Linked DNA regions of Homo sapiens: region 2 is linked to region 1. The links come from fine-mapping of genetic effects on gene expression. A gene starts in region 1. The other region holds a variant in brackets. All regions are shown on one strand. Distances are between the middles of the regions. Region 1 holds the start of HAL (histidine ammonia-lyase). Region 2 holds the start of LTA4H (leukotriene A4 hydrolase).

Evidence for each region. PIP is the estimated chance that this variant, and not a neighbour inherited with it, causes the effect.
Region 2: its variant is the best candidate, but not a certain one, in a credible set for the expression of HAL in monocytes (Schmiedel 2018, PIP 0.73).

What each region holds. Positions count from the first base shown.
Region 1 is chr12:95,992,388-96,000,387 of GRCh38, reverse strand. It overlaps HAL (histidine ammonia-lyase), which reads left to right and starts at 4,044. Exons shown (of 21, transcript NM_002108.4): 1 at 4,044-4,310; 2 at 4,397-4,724; 3 at 5,395-5,455; 4 at 5,563-5,590; 5 at 6,224-6,298; 6 at 6,390-6,462; 7 at 6,550-6,616; 8 at 6,900-6,937; 9 at 7,583-7,708. The coding sequence starts at 4,478. LOC102723340 (a long non-coding RNA gene) reads right to left here and starts at 3,906. Exons shown (of 4, transcript XR_945237.4): 1 at 3,758-3,906; 2 at 1,961-2,057; 3 at 128-297. RefSeq lists enhancers at 1,637-1,696, 2,143-2,437, 3,662-3,831.
Region 2 is chr12:96,027,197-96,040,439 of GRCh38, reverse strand. It overlaps LTA4H (leukotriene A4 hydrolase), which reads left to right and starts at 4,853. Exons shown (of 19, transcript NM_000895.3): 1 at 4,853-5,079; 2 at 11,255-11,385; 3 at 12,876-12,996. The coding sequence starts at 4,921. It overlaps TRD-GTC2-8 (tRNA-Asp (anticodon GTC) 2-8), which reads right to left and starts at 4,419; the gene lies at 4,348-4,419. RefSeq lists enhancers at 4,095-4,144, 4,165-4,214, 4,655-5,074, 5,665-5,754, 7,389-7,558 and a silencer at 5,125-5,224. The variant G/A (reference allele first, on the strand shown) is at 7,503.

The DNA.
Region 1 (8,000 bases):
GGGTTGTAGTGAGCCGAGATGGCGCCATTGCACTCCAGCCTGGGCAATGGAGACTCTGCCTCGAAAAATAAAAAATTAAAAAAAAACCTTAAACATGAATGCTTAGTTGTATTTGCACACCACCTACCTGGTGGACAGCAGATGAACTCCTTACCAGAATGTGTCAACCCTAGCAGGAGCTCTCAACTCCCTCCTCCTGGACCCCTCCGGCTCATCCAGTGGGCTTGTCCTGGTCTCCTGTCCATCAGGGGTCAGATGGCCACCCCAAGCACCAGTCTTTCCCATCCCTCTCACAGTCTGTTCAAAGACAACAAAATAACTTGAACCAAATAAAAGACAAACATAACAAAGCACCCCTGCCAATGCAACGTAGTGCCCCAGGGCATCTCAGCACACATAGCTGTACTAGGTAGAATTATTAGTGTATTAGCTCTATTAGTTAGAATTAATTAGAACCATAGCTGTGTTAGAATTCTTTGATTGCAAGTAACAGCAATCCAAGTGACCAGAAGTCAAAAAGGGAAAAGGAAGATTATTTTAAGGATGCTAGGTATGGGGAGATTATCAGAACCTGGGACGGACAGAAGGGGTCTGATGCCCAGGACTGCAGCACCGTCAGTGCTCCTGTCCCTCACCTCTGCCTCTCTAGTCCACGTTGTACAGGCCGGCCACTCTCCAGCTTTACTGTTACAAATAGCTCTGACCACATGGGGAGGCTATCACAATTCCAAATTCCCAGAGGTGAGACTCTAACCCAGGTTGGGTCCACCTCTGGTCAAATAAATTGTGTAAGAGGAATGGTGTCTTAGAGTATAATTGTTGGCATGGGGTGGGGGTGGGGAGCGGTGTCCTGACCAAATAACCCCTCAAAGTGCTAATGCAGTGACTAAAGTTACAATAGGAGTGAACACCCAAGGTGGGACAGGTATGGAAGAGACATATTCCTGCCTATTCCCGGAATCCTGACTTTTCCCTGGCTCTCACTCTCCCTAGCAGTTTTTGTTTTGTTTTGTTTTGAGACAGGGTCTCACTCTGTCGCCCAGGCTGGAGTGCAGTGGCATGACCATAGCTCACTGCAGCATCAGCCTCTGGGTTCAAGCCATCCTCCCACCTCAGCCTCTGGAGTAGCTGAGACTACAGGCATGCACCACCATGTCTGGCTAATTTTTGTTTTGTAGAGAAAGAGTTTGGCCATGTTGCCCAGGCTGGTCTCGAACTCCTGGGCTCAAGCAATCCACCCGCCTCGTTCTGTCCTCTTGGTCACTTATCTATGCTGCAGTGTGATTCTTTCTCCAGGCTCTGCTCTCCCTTGCCTTCCTTGCCAAGAATACAGAGAAGGGAGTTCAGCTCAAATCACTGGCATAAGATCATGTTCTAAGATTAGACTTTAGCAAATCCATTTACCCAAATACTGCTCTTTAAGGCTTCTGCCCTATGAGCTTACAAGACAAGCTGTAAGTTAATGTCGTTTTTAGTTATCACTTAGTGATACTGAAAGTGAATTGTGACAAGGGATGCTTGAAGGGTGGCATGGAAGGGTGCTGTGAAGAAGGTAGAGGGCGCTAAAGACAAACTTAATCCTGCTTGCTGGTTTACCTAGGGGCCAGCTCGGTGCAGTTCACATTTCTTCAGTTCAGCTAGTAAGCATATGCTAAATGTCTTTGTGCCAGATCGGATATATACATAATTATGGATGAACACAGACAAGTAATTTCCTAGATAATACTAAAGAAGAGCTATGCTAAGGCATCCCAGAGAAGGGCCACTTAACCCAACTGAAGAATTTAGGGAATGCTTCCTGGAGAAGAAAAGGCCTAAACAGGCTTAAGGAGTAAGAAAGATCTAGACAGGCAAAGGAAGTTGGAAAGTGCGTTTCTGGAGAAAGAATAACAAGGAAGACTCTGCTCCACAATGCGTAGGGCCTGAGTTTAGAATCCTCAAACTGCTGGGGGTGACTTACATGGCTGGGAGGTGGTATCACCTGGAAGCTCCTTCCCTCACTAGTCTGATGCCTGGGCTGAAATTACTCAGAAGCTGGTCTCGGCAGTGACAGTCAACTGGAGCATGCAGTAGTTTGGGTTGTTTTGCAGCATGAAGATAGTTAGACCTCTTATTAGTCATCTTTATACAGCTTTATCCATCACCAGACAGTAAGCCTCATGAATGTAGAGCGTGTTTGTTATTTATTTCATCCCCAGCACCTCGCATAGAGCTTGTTACATAACAGGTGTTGAAAAAATATTTGTTAAATGAGTCAAGGAATGAATGGGGGGGGGTGGGGCAGAAGGTTAAGGTGGTTCACATGTGCAGTCCTCAGTTTTCTCACAGATGTAGGAAGTAAGGTCTCCTTCTGAGAATTAGAGGTGGATGTCGAGAAGGTCCTGGCAGAGGGGTCAAAGTTTTGGAAAGTCACTGTGGGCTGGATGGAATAAAAGGGCAATACCATCAAACTATGTGATCACAGGACTTTCTCTATCAGTGTCTTCTGCCTGGGTGAACAGATATGACAGTTTCTTTTAATTTTAAACAGGGTCTTGCTCTCACCCAGGCTGGAGTACAGTGGTATAATCATAACTCATTGCAGCATTGACTGCCTAGGCTTAAGCAATCCTTCCAAGAGATGGCTGTTTTTTGTGATGACTAAGGGGATGGGTGTTATTCCAAGTGTAGACATAAGTTTAGGGATGCAAAGGAATCTCAGAGTGCTTAAGAAAGAGTGGTCCAGTGAGCGACTAGGGACCAGCTTCCTAGGATAGTAAGTGAGGATGCTGGTGGGAAGTGGAGGGATGAAGAGACTGACTGGAGGTCAGGTCCAAGGCTGGCAGTGACTAGAGTAAAAGGGCAGCTGGAAGGTTGTGGTCAGAAGGTGGAATATTGGAATTTCAGATTTCTTAAGTGTGTCAAATTCAGGTCGTGACAGATTCCAGGGTGATTTCTTAAGTGTGTCAAATTCAGGTCATGACAAATTCCAGGGTGCAGTCATGGTGTGGGTATCTGAAGAGCAAGTTTCAATAAGGCTCAAGGAAGGGTAGCTATTTGTACGCTTCCTGGGAAGCTGTCAGCAGATGAGAGGGACTCTGGGTATGAGTATAGGTGTTTTTCTTGAGCAACCATGTCTCTCTTCCCAACAGAAGTCTGATTTAGTGGAAACAGACTTTTCAGGATTTTTCTAGTGCAATAATCAAATCTCTAAAAATTGGCTTACGATGAAAGTGCTGCTTAGTCAAAATAGCATCTGCATATCTTTGATGCCGTAATCATGCTATCCAGAGTTCCTTAATACCAATGGTAATAAGGCGGGTGCAGGGAGCAGTTATCTGTGGTGAAGAAGCTTAATTGGGTGAGGGATATCCATGTGCCAAGATGAAAGAGCATTTATGGAACTTTATAGCTTTATGATTCATACAGAACATTTATAAAGCATTATAGTTACATGGAGTATTGGTGTCCAGATACTAGTAATCACAGACACTTCTATAATATTTCCACTATGCCAGGTGTTGTGTTGAGGGCTTTACATATATGAACTGACTTCATCCTCCCAATAGCCCTTTGACATATATACTATCATCATTACCATTATCTTCATTTTACAGATGAGGCAACTGAGGCCCAGAGAAGTCAAATCACTTGCCCACAAGTCATACACTTAGCAAATGGCAGAGCCAGGATTTGATCACAGGTAAATCCTGCACATACTGGAAGGAGGCAGTTAGCCCCTAGGCCTTCTGATAAGGAAATACAGGGTAATACTCACCTAATCAAGGCTAATAAGTAGTAGAGCTGGACTCTCATCCACGGCTGTCTGAGCCCCTAATCTCCAAGTCAGAGTGGTTCATTTGCCCAGATGACGACCTTTAGTTGTGAAAATGATCTCTGGCCTTTGCAGTCTTCCCTGGTGGAAAGAAAGCTTCAGAAAACCTTACTGGTGACAGGAAGTAGTTGCTCAATACATGTTTGTGGAATAAACAAATGAGTGACGATTGCCACACTCCCAGTGTCACAGTTGGCCCACAGAACACGTTTTACAGTTGAGTAATCTCAGATAAAGACAGGAACATGGTGTTTATAAGCTGCCCTTAATGGCAGAGAACACAGACAGAAACGAGGGAAGAGAGAGAAATTGGGGACCCTGAAGAAAGGGGGCCAGCAGCAGGTAGGTGCCATCAGGGACAAGAACAGCACCTCCCAGGGTGGGAGACCCCAGGCCTTTCTGGCAGCAGGTCTGGATGGAAAGTGGACAGGAGGCTCACCCGTCTGCATCCCCTGCTCCTGCCCCTGCTCGGCTACAAAAACCAAAGGGACAGCAGGTACCTCAATAAATATTTGTCCAATGCATGAATGAGTAAAGGTGAAGGAGGGGGAGTGGTTTGAAAGTCTATTCTCATCCTTCCAGCTGACCACACCCCGGTAGCCACTCCTGCATAAAGCTCTCCCCTCCTGTGACCAGCTGAGGACCTCAGGCTGCAGCGGAGCCATGCCCAGATACACGGTGCACGTACGTGGGGAATGGCTGGCAGTGCCCTGCCAGGACGCGCAGCTCACTGTGGGCTGGCTGGGCCGGGAGGCCGTGAGGCGCTATATCAAGAATAAGCCCGACAATGGTGGCTTCACCTCCGTGGATGACGCGCACTTCCTTGTGCGCCGGTGCAAGGGCCTGGGCCTGCTGGACAACGAGGACCGGCTCGAGGTGGCCCTAGAGAACAACGAGTTCGTGGAAGTGGGTGAGTGGCTGCAGGAGAGGGCCGCGAACGGGTGCGGTTTGGCCTGGCTTAGTCTTTGCAGCATTGAACCCCCACCTCAGGGAAAATGATGAGCAGAGGTCAGGCTTGCCGAGGCTGGCCCTGTGCAGGCACATGCCACGCCTCTGGGGATCTTAAGTCCTCACACAACCCTGTGAGATGGGTAGGATTCTCCTCCACCTCTGATGGAGGAGAAATCAGAGAGGAGGTAACTTACCCAGACTCCAGCAGCTAGTAAGTAACAAAGACTAGACTGGTACTCAAGGCTGCAGGTCTGAATCCCTTTGCAGTGACTGAATCATTTTGAGGTTATTTTGCCTTTCGAAAGAATCCACCCCCACCCCCAGACTGGAGGCCGGCAGCATAGCATCAGTTCAGATTTTGAAGAAAATAAAGCTGGGAATGGGGATGGAAGTGGAATTCTGTCTTGAACTTTCATCTAAACCCCTGGTCTCTGCCCTGACACCTACCTTTCTGCTTTTTGCTCTCCTCCTACATAAAGATGCTAAGACCACATGAAACCATCTGAAGCAGTTTTAAAGCAGCCATTTCTATAGAATTCATGGGCCAATGATGGGCCGTTCCTTGGTTTAACAGGGGGAACATGGCTGTACAATGTGATCTGTAACGAGTCTCCCGTGCATTGTTTTAGTTATAGAGGGTGATGCCATGTCTCCTGACTTCATTCCATCTCAACCAGAAGGAGTTTATCTGTATCCTTTCCCACAGGCTCTTTGGTCTGCTCTGGGGGTGGCTCCTGCAGATGGTGGGGCTGGGGGTTTTTCCACACCACCCTATATGTTCCTTTACCTGGATACAGATACAGCAAGTACCGGGAGCCTGAAAAGGTAAGCTTCAAACCACTTTCTTTTTCTTCAGAAAATTAAGGCCCCTTATTTAAGAGGGAGGAAAGCCAGGAAAACTTCTGAGAAAACACTGTCAATTAGAACAGGGCTGGCCGGGAGCAGTGACTCATGTCTGTAGTCCCAGCACTTTGGGTGGCCGAGGTGGGCAGTTCACTTGAGGTCATCAGTTTGAAACCAGCCTGGCCAACATGGTGAAACCCCATCTCTACTAAAAGTACAAAAATTAGCCAGGTATGGTGGCGTGCACCTGTAATACCAGCTACTCAGGAGCCTGAGGCACGAGAATTGCTTGAACCCAGGAGGCAGAGGTTGCAGTGAGCCATGTTTGTACCACTGCACTCCAGCCTGGGCTGGAGACTCTGCCTCAAAACAAACAAACCAACCAACCACAGGGCTTTATCCAGCTCTGTAGTGGGGAAAGGGGGCTTGGAAAGGCATTATGCTTTTGCACCAATAAGCCTCCTCTTATGCAAGATGCATTTTTATTTAGCATATTCATGTTTCACGCAATGATCAGATCTCTGAAATGTCAGTTTGGTTCTGTTGGAGGTGTCCCTACTCTGGTTAGAATAATCAAGCTGTTCAGACTCACTGAGATCCCCTTCTTTTGTGTAGTACATCGAGTTAGATGGAGACCGTCTGACCACGGAGGATCTGGTCAACTTGGGAAAGGGACGCTACAAAATAAAGGTATGGGGAGGGAGGGGAAAGATGTCCTCTGGCCATTTTTGTTGCCCGTGGAAGTCTTTAACGTGCTCAGTTCTGATCAACATTTTCCTAGCTCACCCCAACAGCTGAGAAGAGGGTGCAGAAATCCAGGGAGGTCATAGATAGCATCATAAAAGAGAAAACAGGTATCTTTTTATCTTTATGTTATAAATATTTTTATAAACAAACAAAAATCCCTGCATTTAATTGCATAATGTCTCTTTTTATTCTAGTTGTTTACGGTATTACTACAGGTTTTGGGAAATTTGCCAGAACTGTAATTCCTATCAATAAGCTACAGTAAGTTTAAAACACACATATGTTCACGTTCCACCTACCCTCATCTTTTAAATATTTTTCAACAAGGGAAATAATTCACATTTGCCCCAATTTACAGATCAGAGGATGAGGCTTGGGTTACCTTGCATGTGAGTTGGTATTGAAAACCCAGGCTGGCTGGTTTCTCCCATTGCCTTCCTTCTGTCCCTCCAAGGATTTGACCATGATTCCCTTCATTTTCCCAGCTGAGGGAACATTTTCTCACTGCAATGTATCTAAGAGGGTTTTTACCTTTCTGTTGCAGGGAGCTTCAGGTCAACTTAGTACGCTCACATTCTTCAGGTAAGTCAAAACGTTGGGTGCCTCCTGGATCTTGTGTGATTAGATGAATAAAGCACAGCACAGTGTGAGTTATCCAGTTATAGTCACAAAAAGCTAGTTTCTCAAAACAGCATTTCAAGAACTAGGTGCCGAGGTGAGAAGGGATGCAGAAAGAATCAGCTGAGCCTCAGAAAAAGAAATGGGCCAGGTGGAGGGATGGGGTTGGTATGAGAACACATGTCCCATGCCATGGAGACACTGTTGCATTCAGGGAAGGAAATAAAGCCTGGAACTCAAAGAATGAGTTAGGATGGGCATAGTGAGATGGGAAAGACTGTCACCAATCAGCACCCATCAGATGGTAAAGAAGTTGTGCTAAGGACTCTGGATGCTATTCTAAAGGTGAGTGGGAGGTCAGGGGTTCACTGAAGCTTCCCAAAAAGGGGAATTGAGAAGGCAAAACTGGGGTCTTAACCTTTGTCAGGAAGATGGGGCTCAGACAAGTCAGACAGGCAGGAGGGAGAGTAGTCCAACTACCTGAGCCGAGAGGAGAAGGTAATAGCAGGCTGGGCTACATATGGGAAAGATTGGAGGGAGGGAGGGCAATTGTCAGGAGACAAAAAGGAGTTTGCTTTTCTTGGAGAAAACATCAATTCTGTTTTGCAGGTGTTGGGAAACCACTAAGTCCTGAGAGGTGTCGGATGCTCTTGGCTTTAAGGATCAATGTCTTAGCCAAAGGATACAGTGGCATTTCCCTGGAGACCCTCAAACAAGTCATAGAAATGTTTAATGGTAATGCAATGGCTCCCTAGACGGAACCTCTGTGGAGGCTGGACATGTACCACAGGGTAGAATTGATTGGCCAGATGCTGAGGAATCACCTGAGAAGACATGAAATAATTGAAATGAGTGGGAAATGCCGTTGGCAAAAAGTAGGATAGTTAGATGGGGGAAGAGGAGAAAGTCGATCAGAGATGCTTACTCCTATGAACTTTAACTTATTCTGCAAGACCCTTTCCCTAGCATTTGTCATCTTCAAGACTAGAACAGGACTCTTAAGTCTGCCCTTACATTCAAGCCTGCC
Region 2 (13,243 bases), 37 kb before region 1:
GTTGGGAAATGTCTACTTCCGGGTGGCCATGTGTCCAGCTAAACATGGAAGGTTTTACTACTAAGGATGAAAAGATATATAGGTATTAGAAGACAACTAATGATCTCTATCATGCCAGATGTATAACCTGGAGAGGAAAGAAGAAAGGCAGATTATTGAGGAGTGTGTGAGGGCACTGCATTAACTTGTAGGACTTTGTACCTTCAGAATTGTTCTTTCCCAAACACATCTCTACTTCTGGCCCCACGCCTTGATTCCTGCTAAGTCCACCTGAAAAATCTGCCCACCTCCCACTCCCCATGCTCAATCCTACCATTTTTCCTATTAATATTCGGCTCATCCTTCAAATCCCATCTCAAATGCTATGTTAATCATGACGTTATTCTTGACTTTCTCCAAAGGGATAGAACTTGTCCCTCTAGAATTTCATGTATAGTTTTTCTAGGGCCTTAGTCTCCTCTTAACACCATGTTGTCTTAGGTCATTAGTACAGCTGGGTACTAGAGTATAAATTATCCAAGAGGTAAGACAGAACCTTCCCCAATTATTTTCTAGGTAGCACAGTGTAGTAGAATGCATCTAATAAATATCTGCAAATTACATCGACTATTTCAAGAAAGGAAAGGTATATGTAAAGGAAGGGGAGAAAACAATGTAAAGTCTTTTTGCCCTTTTAAGGGAAGCATTTGTGCAACAATTGAAATTTCCCGTAAATGCATTTCAAAACATATCTTTGCTAATGTTGCCATTCCTTTTTAGAGGCCTAATTTGGTGTGACTTGTTTTGCTGTACAAACCGTGGTTGCTTCTCACTTCCCAGGTTGTCCTAAAAGCTCTTGCTAACACAACAAGGAAAAATAACATTACAGTGGTTAAAATAGACAAAAGCCAACAGCAATAATCATATTAGCTAACATGTAACAAATGCCCAATCTGTTTCAATCACAGTGCCAAGCAGTTCCCATACTTTATCTCATTTCATCTTTTCAACAACTGCACGGGCCACAGGTGCCTCAATTATCCTGAGGGGATTGAGGGATTAAGTAACTTTTCCAGGTGAATAGCAGGGCTGGAATTCTTCCTGTTCATATGGCTCTATAAATATAGGTATTATTTCTTTTCATAATATTTTATATAGATCATCTTTTCATCTTTAAGTCTCCTTTGGTAACTAAACCCTGATATTACCCTTCTTTTATTATTATTATTACTATTATTTGTAGAGACAGGGATTCACCACATTGCCCAGGCTGAACTCAAACTCCTGGGCTCAAGCAATCTGCTTGCCTCAGCTTCCCAAAGTGCTGGGATTACCGGTGTGGGCCACTGTGCCCAGCCTTACCCTTCTTTTATAGATGCAGTGGAAAGCCTCATTTTTTGAAGCATTCTCAATTCCCCATTGGATATCAATAATACTCCAATTGCTTGTAAATTGCAAATTTTGTACATTCTATATTTGGGGTGAGTGGTATCTCAGAAAACAATTCCTACTGTAATTTATTTTTTGATGAATATATTAATGGAGGAATTTATTTGTGGTTGTGTGTGGATATTTTTATTTAAACACAAGTGGCATAAACTCTGTGGGTTCCTGGTAATCAATAATAGAAGATGATGATAATGACGTTCTTATTAAAACAAACTATCCTTTCTCCATACTAGATAAATAAGATGATTTGACTGTGTATTATTTGACTAAATGAATTCTATGTTATCTATTGTATTTGTCACCCTAGATTTGGTGACCTCAAAAAATGTTTGCGGCTCTGTGTGGTGGCTCGTACCTGTAATCCCAGCACTTTGGAAGGCCAAGGCAGGTGGATCCCTTGAGCTCAGAAGTTTGAGACCAGCTTGGGCAACATGACAAAACCCCATCTCTAAAAAAATATAAAAATTAGCCAGGCGTGGTGGCGGGCGCCTGTAGTCCCAGCTACTTGGAGGCTGAGGCACGAGAATCGCTTGAGTCCAGGAGGTTGAATGTGCAGTTACCCATGATCATGCCACTGTATCCAGCCTGGGCAACAGGACATTTGCCAAAAAAATCCGAAAATGCAAATGTTGATGACAAATTCTTACACCCTATGAATTAGGACCTATGCATGTGTAAGGTATTAGATTTCATAGTTTGGGATTTTTTGGTTTTATTTTGTTTTCCTTTGGCTTGCAGGGGCCAACACAAGGATATCCAGAAATATAGCAGTTTTTTGTTGTTGTTGCTGGAGCTAAATTTCGTCACTTTTGATAGAGAATTGAACCATACCAGCATGCTAAACCCATCAACTATCCCTCACACCTCTGAAATCTTTACTTTCTTCTTCTCTACCTTTTTGCCTCTGAGTCGATCCTTCTGCAGAAACTTTCCTCTTCTCCAGAAGCCCTTTCACCTGTATATCTAAACATGTTAAAGTTTTCTCTTGCCTTAAAAAGCAAACATTAAAAAAATTCTTTCTCGGCCGGGCGCGGTGGCTCACGCCTGTAATCCCAGCACTTTGGGAGGCCGAGGTGGGTGGATCACGAGGTCAGGAGATGCAGACCATCCTGGCTAACACGGTGAAACCCCGTCTCTGCTAAAAATACACACACAAAAAATTAGTCGGTCTTGGTGACGGGCGCCTGTAGTCCTTGGAGGCTCAGGCAGGAGAACGGTGTGAACCCGGGAGGCGGAGCTTGTGTGAGCCGAGATTGCGCCACTGCACTCCAGCCTAGGCGACAGAGCGAGACTCCGTCTCAAAAAAAAAAAAAAAAAAAGCTTTCTCAATGCTGCATTCCTCTCTAGCTTCCCCTTTATCTTCCCTTCTCACATTGGCCAAGCAACTTGACAGTGGTTTATGCTTCACCTCCCTCTTCTCTTCATTGCTCAATCCACTACTCTCTGGCTTCCATCTTCAACCAAATCACGACAGTCAACAAAATCACCACCTTCCCCATTCTCACCCCACTGCCAAATCTAGAGAATTTTCACTTCTTACTTCGGTGGTCCTCGGGACTGCATCTGGCATTGTTGGTTGGCTCTTTCTGGTTTATTTCATGGGTTTCTCTTCCTCTAGCCCTTTTTAAAACAATAAATTCTGGTGTTCTCTCAGCTTCCAACCTGTTTTCATTACCCTTCTCTTTACACACTCTTCTTGGGTTGAGCTTACCCACTGTCATAATTTCATCCACCACGTTATGTGACGTGGTCATGTCTACCTGGCACTTCCCCAGAGCTGTGGACTTAAATATCCAAGTGACTCATGGACATCTCCACTTCCACTCCCATAGGTTCTCAAATTTCATATGTCCAAAATTGAATTTAGCATCTTCCCCTTAAATCTGTCTGATTTAGTTTGAATATATGTCCCTACCAAATCTCATGTTGAATTATAATCTCCAGTGTTGGAGGTAGGGCCTGGTGGGAGGTGTTTGGGTCACGGGGGCAGAGCCCTCATGGCCTGGTGCTGTCCTCGCCACAGTGTCTTGTGGGATCTGATTGTTTAAGTGTGTGGCACCGGCCCCGCAATCTCTTGCTCTTGCTCGGGCCATGTAGAGGCCTGCCCCTTCTTCACCTTCTGCCATGATTGTAAGCTTCCTGAGGCCTACCTGGAAGCATACTGGAGCTATGCTTCCTGTACAGCCTGCGTAACTGTAAACCAATTAAACCCCTTTTCTTCCCAGTCTCAGGTATTTATAGCAATGCAAGTACAGCCTAACATACTGTCCTCTTCATATAGACTACTACCTCTGGTTAATGACTAGCCAGCCACTGAAGCCGAAAGCCTGGGCCACCTTCGTCTCCTCTCAATCTGTGAATCCACTTATATAAGTATTCCTTCTATTCATTCCTTCCTCTCTATCCTAACTTACTACTTACCTATGTCAGGCCCCCAGCATCTTCTGATTGAGCCATTTTAATAGTTTCCTAAATCTCCTGCTAATGGTTTTGATACCGCATTTTATAACATGAGTCTGACCATGCTTTATCAGTCGCCTGCTGAAAACTCTTCAGTGGGTCCCCCATTAATGCACCCAGGATTAAAAGGCCACCTATTTAAGGTCCTTCGAAACCTAGCCTCTTCCAATTTTTCCAGTTTTAATTTTGAGGCCCCACCCTAAAGGCAAGGCATCCTTCAATCCTCCTTCACCTGCCACAAAGGCCCCAGAGCTGAGCTAGATGTCCCAGCTCTGTACTCCCATTGCGACCAGTGCATAACTTTTATAGAAATTCATTAGTTTCTAAGATGGGAATGTTGGCTTTCTCCGTTTGAGAGATGCAGGTTCTGGGGATATACATAATAAACACTGAAACTGACAAAACAACTGTTTAAACCTTGAATTACTTACAGCTAAAAACAAAAAACAATTACTGTGCCTCCCCGTCGGGGAATCGAACCCCGGTCTCCCGCGTGACAGGCGGGGATACTCACCACTATACTAACGAGGAACCGCACGAAAGAAAGCCTTCTGATAGGCCTTTTCTACGTTTTTGCTCCGCCCCGCCCTCGCTATATGCAAACACCAATGAACCTGATTTTCTTACGTTTGCCACCACAGCTTCCACGAAAGTTGAACAGAGCCAAAATGGTAGTGTTCAGTTTTATCTCCCCCTCCATTCTCATCATTTCCCTTCGGCCACCCTTCTAACTGCCCCTACTCCCCTCCTCTTCTTCAGCTCCAGGAGCACGCTTGGTCCCCCTCAACATCCCTAACACACACGCTCCCAGGTAGCCAAGCGCCCGCTTGCCGCGCGGCACCATGGAACTTGTAGTTCCTTCACCCATCCCCCAACGCTCGTCTGACTTTAAGAAACTTCCTTTCCCGGCGTGCACCGCGAATCCCTCCTCCTCTTCTTTACCTCTCTCCCTCCTCCTCAGGTTCTCTATCGACGAGTCTGGTAGCTGAGCGTTGGGCTGTAGGTCGCTGTGCTGTGTGATCCCCCAGAGCCATGCCCGAGATAGTGGATACCTGTTCGTTGGCCTCTCCGGCTTCCGTCTGCCGGACCAAGCACCTGCACCTGCGCTGCAGCGTCGACTTTACTCGCCGGACGCTGACCGGGACTGCTGCTCTCACGGTCCAGTCTCAGGAGGACAATCTGCGCAGCCTGGTACAGTGGGGCGCCTGCCCAGTGCCCGCCTCTCCCGGGCTCCCTGCCCCTCGACCCTAGTCCTTGCGGGCTCCCGGATCTCCGGCTCACCCCGCCGCGGCCCCTGCCTAGCCCCACGTCCCCGTCTGCTCTTCTGTAGCCTCCATCCAACTCATGTTGTGCACTTCAGCCCCCAGATCTCTCACAGCACCCCTTCTCAACCCCGCTTACGCCTCTGCATCCCTTCCCTCAGCCCCCACTTATACGTATGTCTCCTCCGCCCCTCGCCTGGATCCTCTCTCCGAGGTCCCTGGGCACATCCAGCGCCTCGTCCACTCCTCTCAACTCACCCAGCCCTTAGGTGTCATCTTTGCAGTAGCCCCCATAATTTTAGTTCCTGGCTCTAATTACTCCATGGCCTCCCCATTGCTTCGGCCTGCGGCCCAGAACCCCCTTCTTCAGGCCCCAGACTTTTCCCAGCCCCCTGGGCACCTTCCTCAGTCAACAATCTCACCCAAGTCTCAGATCCCATGTCCTGTCGATCCCTGATCCCACGGTTGCCTCCCGGGAACACTTATTTCAATCCACAGGTCTGCAGGGCACCACCCATCCGTCTCCCTCCTAGTTCCCTGGATCTCCCTGCTAGTCGTTCTCAAGCCTCTTAGGATTTCCAGCCCCGGCCGGGCAGGCCTCTTCTTTCCGCCCTACTTTGAAACTAACAGTCCCTGCTTGCTAACTCTAGGCGCAGCTCTCTCTCTTCAGGGTCCTTTCTACTTTTTAATCTTATCAACTTTCTTCTAATAATTTAAGAACGGATGGGACGTTCAAATTTTCTAAGGATGATTCAATACGCTTTTTTAATAGTTGGTTCCAAGGAGCCAAGTAGTTATTTCACTTAGAAAACACATACTTCTACAAACTCTATAACCATTGGAATGAAGAAAGGTTGTAGATTCATGGAATATTATTCAATGATTTTATCTGTATCATAACCTATATTTAATGTTCTTGCTCAAATTGCCCAATAGTATTTGGTTTATACCTTTCATCTGAAGGTACCTTTCACCTGAAGAATTTCATAGAAGATCATTTTAAAAATAAGAGGGTCATGAAAAGACAGCCAAATTCGGCTTCTTCACCAGGGCAGGATGCTACATGTGTATTTTACACAGTGTAGCATGGTGAAATCTACTAAAGCACATCAATAAGCAATCAGATCAGATCGGGCAGATAAGAATTGGTGGCTTTCAGGCCTCTTTTTCCTACTTGTGTAGGAAGGATCTGAATTTTGATTTCATTAATATGAACTAATAAGTACTTACTTTCTTACTCTTCATCCCTCAACATTTTGCTAAACTGATTGATTTGAAAAATAGGTCGATTCCTCTATGTACTGATAGGTAATCAACAAAAGTACCATAAGAAAGAAAATTAAGATATTATAAGCAGGAAGGCATCTATTTCCTTGCAGATCGCACTTTGGTCTTCTTGAAGTACCATGCTATCTTTAATTGCAGTAGCAACTTTGCCTGGGCAGGGCTGAAGTCCTATTTCAATGCAGTTTCAAAACTAAACACCGCATGTTCTCACTCATAAGTGAGAGTTGAACAATGAGAACACATGGACACAGGGAGGGGAACATCACACACCAGGGCCTGTTGGGGGTAGGGGCCTAGGGGAGGGATAGCATTAGGAGAAATACCTAATGTAGCTGACGGGTTGATGGGTGCAGCAAACCACCATGGCATGTGTATACTTATGTAACAAACCTGCACGTTCTGCACATGTACCCCAGAACTTAAAGTATAATAATAAAAAAAGAAAAACCACACTGTGAGACTGCCATATTTGAACATGAGTTTATACGTCCTACATTCAAAAGTACTAGAGATTTAAAAATTAAGCAATTCAGGACACTTGTGTTCAGATGTGAATAATTGCAAACCAAAACCGAGGTCGCTAGTGGAAGAAATTTAAAGAGGTTTTTCTAATATATGAACAGCAAATTCTTCCTTGAATCTTTAGCTGCAACATATATTTCAGAAGAAATATTCCAATTGGTTTAAGATATAATAAAACCTTGACTAAGCCCCAAACCCACTCAAAGCTCTTAGTTAACTGGAAAGTTCTTGTTCTTCACCTTTATTTAAAAAAATTAAATTATAAACTATGCTGATAAAAGTAAAAGAATGAAAATTTTTATAGCTTTTTGCTGCTTAATGTGACCTCACACTTACCTTTGTTTTGTAAAATAAAAACTTAAAAAATTTATTATTTGAAGTTCAGGTGTACTTCAAATGTGCAGGTTTGTTACATAGGTAAACTTGTGTCATGAGGGTTTGTTGTACAGATTATTTTGTCACCCAGGTATTAAGCCTAGTACCCATTAGTTACTTTTCCTGATCCTTTCCCTTCTCCTACCCTCCACCCTCCAGTAAGCCCCA[G/A]TGTGTGTTCCCCACTGTGTATCCATGTGTTCTCATCACTTTTGTAGAATAAAAACTTTATCTCTGTTCTATAAGTAAGCAAGAGTCAGGATGTTTAAATTTTGAAAAGAATGTCCCAATCTAAAAATCTGCTCATTGTTTTTACATTCCCCAAATCTAGAGAAAAGTAAGATTTTAAAATAGTGATTTCTGGTTGGCATGTCTGTTTAGCAAATTAGAGCCTGGAATTATAATAATGTTACATGTTATACAAGGAAGGCAATTTATGGTACAAAATAACATGTTTATAATTGTTTGCTTATTTATGACAAAAGCCTTAGACCAGGAGCTTATCCTTATTAATTAGTTAATTAGTATTTATTTAAAGTTAACTTGTTTCTTTCCTCCACTAGATTGTGGACTCTTGAATGTAGAGACTGTGTTTCATAACTCTTTGTATCTCAGCTTCCTAGTATAGTCTATGTCTGGCATGTAGAGGACATTCAAAAGTTTGATTAATGGATGATTTCAATTAGAAAACAGTGCCTAAGCTTAACATGGGCTACATTGATAATAGTGCCAGCTGTATTTCAGAGGTGAGATGGGAAGACCCAGTGCCAGTGCGGAATCAGGAGAGACGTCATGTCTTCTTTTCCTCTCCGTTCTTAGAGTTTGTGATGTTGAGGAATGCTGAAGGAGACTTAATCGGACAAATTCTAAGCTTTCTAAAATTCTTTTCAAGTTTTGGGTTATTTACACTGAAGTTTGATCCTCCAAATTTATGATAACTTTCATACATTTGTTTCTTTTCACTGAAACCTTCAGAAATGTTTAGGTGTTCTTTTGGTTAGTGGCTCAAGAGGTTTTAGTGCCATGGCCAAGGCAGAAGCCAGCAGTTAACAATAGGTAATTCTGACTGCAAACCATCTTGTTTTCACTAAGTAAATGTCTCAACTGGGAATCAAATCAAGGTGGTTTTTTAGTTTTAGCTTTGTGTTTCACACATAAACCTATTTTTTTTCATCATATCCCTGCACATAGCAAGTAGAAAATGTAAATTTAGACATCATAATGAGGCATAAAGCTTTTTTTAAAAAAACTCTGCTTTGTTCTAGAAAGGACTGAGACTGCTTGAAGCAACATATATAGTATAAGATTAAAAATAATTAAATAATTTGCAGGAAGAGAGAATAGGGATAGGAGAAACAAAACCCATGGCATAAAGCCCTCTATACTTTAAAAGAAGTGGGCCACAGGGTTGACATGGAGCTTCCTACCAGCCTGTGCAAAAAAGGAATCAGATACCTATTCCATGTCAACTGACCAGCTACTGAGAAGTACAACTGCTTTTTAGGGGGATGGAGGGTATTGTTCAAAGAGGATACTGTGAAACATATAAATTATATCCTATAATTAGTAGAGCTGTTGATGCTTAACACGTTTCTTAAAAAGTACTAAATCCAACTTGTCAACAATCCAGTTTTCTTTATTTTTCTTTCTTATTACAGTTTTTGACTATTTTTTAAAAATAACATCGCTGAAATTTGAAGGGGAATTTTAAAAAGTAGTTTGCAAATGATAGTTGAGACTTAGGACTTGAGATAATACAGCTTAAACATTGCATTTTTTGTTTTCTCTTGGTCTAGGACCTGCTTCATGCATTAATTGACACCTAGTGTTTTTGAGGCAGAGTGCTAAACCCTGGGAATACAGACCTAAGTAACATTCTCTGTTTTAGAACCCTTAGTCTAATGGAAAAAGAAATCATTATAATGCAGTACAGTAAGTATTATAGGAAAGGGTAGGGCCAAGAGCTATAACAGACACAGGGGATATCAAAACGTTTCACAAAAAATAGTTGTCACTATGACACTTCTGATTCTGAACAGATTTGGAAAGTTTAGCCAATATAGAAAACAGAATATGTTCCACTGGGAAATGACCCAGTTAATTCATCTATATAAGCATGTGTTATAAACACAAGATACTCAAATCAAGTTTTTAAAACAAGTTAGCTATTCTGAATAGCTATTCAGAACTAGGTACTAGACTATGAAGAGACTAGAGAGGTACTAGAATATGAAGGAGTAACCCTATTATTTTAAATAAGATATAAACCGTATCTTCTACTAATTTAGAGTAAGGATAACAAATGAGGTACCCCCAAAAGAAAGTACCCAGGGGCAGCTGGGAAATGGCTGGTTCTTGGCCTCACATGTAGCCAGGTCAGATTTCAGAAAAGGAAAAAAATAATGCCAGAGGTAGGGAGATCTGGTAGAAAGCAGTTCTGCCAGTCCAGGGCCTGACCTGGGTTAGTAGTGGAAAGAAAGGAAAAGTATGAAGACATTGTGAAAGAACAACTTTTAAGTGGCTGTGTGGGGTTGGGAAATGGGATCAAACCTTAGGTAACTGGAAGAGTTCTTTTAACAGAATCAAGAAATCTGGGGAGAAATCTGATTCAGGGAGTATAAAAATCATTTTTGGAATTTTTAGAAGCCTATTCAATGTGTGGTGCTATGTCCCATGGAAATGTTGAGCAGGCGATTCGACTGAGGTCCTGGGGAGGGAATACAACTGTAGAACTAGAATGGCAGGCATCTTCACAGAGATACTAATTGAAGATGTGGGCATGAGTAAGAGCTAGGGAGTGAAGGATATGGCAAGAAAATCAAAGGACCGGGGCTGGAACATTGGGACATATCCATATTTTTGAATTGGAATAAAGGAGGGGAAAGGAAAAAAACATTAGACAAATAGAGAACCATTTATGATGTATGCGTACAGGCAAAGAAGTGAAGGAAGGGGTTTTAACCAGATGACATAGTCCATAAGGGCTGTGAGTAGACAGAGGTCAAGGTTATTGGACAGAAAAGACTTTGTTGATCGGGGTGGGGGCTGCCCTTTCAATAGCAAGAAGCCAGATGGAAGAAGGGGAAAGGGAGGATGATTAATGAAGAAGTAGAAGTAGTAGTCATAGCAGTCAAAAACTCCCTTGGAGTTTAAGGAAGGAAGGAGGAAAACTAGAATATTTAGTGGGTAGATCCATCAAGTAGAATTTTGTTTATGTTGTTAGGAAACAGTCTTGTGGCATAGGAAGGTTCAAGATTCTAGGACAAGAGATTAGTTGAGAGATAATTAAAGAGTATGATTTGTAGGGCTCAGGATTTTGGGGATAGAAAATACTCTGACACTTGATGTCACTCCTTCATGCCCAAAGCAGTTGTCCTTAATTGGCCATGGCAAGTAGATATGGCCTCCCAATCCTCTGCAGAATCATTTGGTCTGAGTTACCATACCAGGTTGGGCTTTTTCTAGATATACAACCACAGTGATATACAGTTTGCTGATTTGCTTAACGAACATGAAGTTTGAAAGTACATGAGTTCTAGGAGGAAATATATTGTGTAATGTATTGAGGAGCCAGAGTGAAAGAAACTTAAGTTATAGATAAAGTTTTTCATAATAGAGAAAATTTTAGGAGTCAGAAGCAAACATATTTTGATTTAGATTTGACTTTTACTTAAAGCCCAAAATTTGTGTGACTGTCCTAGGGTTATTTAACAATATATATGCAAATCTTAGAACCCAAAAATTTTCAAGATGCTTAGAGTCCCAAAAAATGAGACCTAGACTAGCTTTTGACTCTTCAATTCTTCTAATTTCACTCTGTATTTTACTCTCCATAAGCAACTAGTTGTTGTAGCCTATATCTAATATGAGTTTTTTCTGGTAAATGAAACTATTTTCTTACTATTTAAAAATATTAATTTTAGGTTTTGGATACAAAGGACCTTACAATAGAAAAAGTAGTGATCAATGGACAAGAAGTCAAATATGCTCTTGGAGAAAGACAAAGTTACAAGGGATCGCCAATGGAAATCTCTCTTCCTATCGCTTTGAGCAAGTATGAATGTTATGATCTTTCTCTTTTACAGCTAAATAATGGGGAAACATATTCTTAACTAATTTAAATATTTTTTCTTTTTAAATTTTAGTTTGTAAATATGTAATGATTGGTACACTACTTATCCTGATCTTCTGTTCAGATTAAAGTTGATACAGCAGTTAAAATTATATATACTTAAGATACTAAAAATGTTGTTTGTATATAATACAACAAGGACTTTGGGAACTGTTAGTTTCTAAACGATTCATCCTTTTACTAATATCTAGAGTGATGGTGGGGGCATGCCATCATAAGAAGGCATTTCAAGATAACCTGGGCAGCTTTACAAGTTGCACCCTCCTTGCCCTTGCCCCAGAGGCCAGCTGCATTTATTAATGGGACAATGATAATGCCAAAGATAGAACTGTTACAGTGCAGCAATCTTGGGATAAGTGCTTTAAATGCATTCTTGTATCTAATCCTTACAGTAACCCTGCTGGTATAATCTACACTTAAAGATGAGGAAAGGGAACCTTAGAGAAATAACTTATTCAAGAAAGTGGCAACCAGAATTGTCACACTGGGAGTATATGCCACCTCTTGAGGGGAAAGAGGGTGAAAACTATTGGCCTAGAACAAGGGTGATCTACCCCAGTTGTTCAGAGGCCAGTGTTTTCATGCCTTCTCTTTCCCTTTAAGAGAAGGGAAACACTTAAGTCTAGCTTGTGAGGTAGATGGTATTCACCCCATTCTACAAGGAAACTGTGGCATAGGGAGGTCAAATAATTTCCCCAAGTTTACAGTACCAGTAAGTGATAGAGTCAGGATTCGAACACCAGCAGGGCTGCTGGTCTCTAAACCTCTGCTGTTTCCTTATTATCAGTGCTTCTCAAACTCTCTGGGGTAAAGGACCAATTTCTATCCTCTTCAATCTGTCATAGACTGATACTTTTGTACAATGCAATAAAAATGAAATATGAGGAAGAAGAGATGAAATACAAGCACACATTTTTTATTATTAGATTCAACAGACAAAAATGACTCTAAAAGTTTTGCAATGCTGACTCTCAACTTCTGGTCTTGTCTTGTCCTGGGCCGGTAACAGTTTGCAGACTAGCACTGCTCTGTGTCATGCTGTGGCACCTGCTGCTGTGGTAGTTGAAGCCCCAAAAATGATTTCTTTTACTTTTTCACTCTAATAAAATATTAAATGATATCACAGATGCAAAGTACGTGACACACAACGGGGTAGTCAACCACTGTTAGTTGCCATTAAGCCTTCGCTAGCAGTTAGCATGGGAGAGGTAAAAGGACCCACAGGCTGGCAATTAGGTAGGAAAACTGAGAGGAGACTTACCCACTGAGGATGTGGCATACCTAGAGCTTACTGCCAATCAGTGATGAGAATGCATACTATGTTATTTATATTATTCAGTGTATGTATTATGAGTTTAAATTTTCACTAGATGGAATCATACTCTACTAATATATTTATGTGTTTCATACAGAAATCAAGAAATTGTTATAGAAATTTCTTTTGAGACCTCTCCAAAATCTTCTGCTCTCCAGTGGCTCACTCCTGAACAGACTTCTGGGAAGGAACACCCATATCTCTTTAGTCAGTGCCAGGTAAAAAGGATTCCAGAATGATTTCTGATGCAGAAAATTTCAGCACCTATGGTTGAATGAAGCAAAATGAACAGTGGTTTTATGGATTATGTAGGTTTTACCTAATAAAATGTATTAATTGATCTTATAGAAACATATAAGATGAATTATATATTTTCATTTTATCTTTCACTATTAATACACTCATGCCTTACTTTAAATAAGAAGCTTCTTTCAGTTTGGAAATATGTCCACCTAGATTGGACTC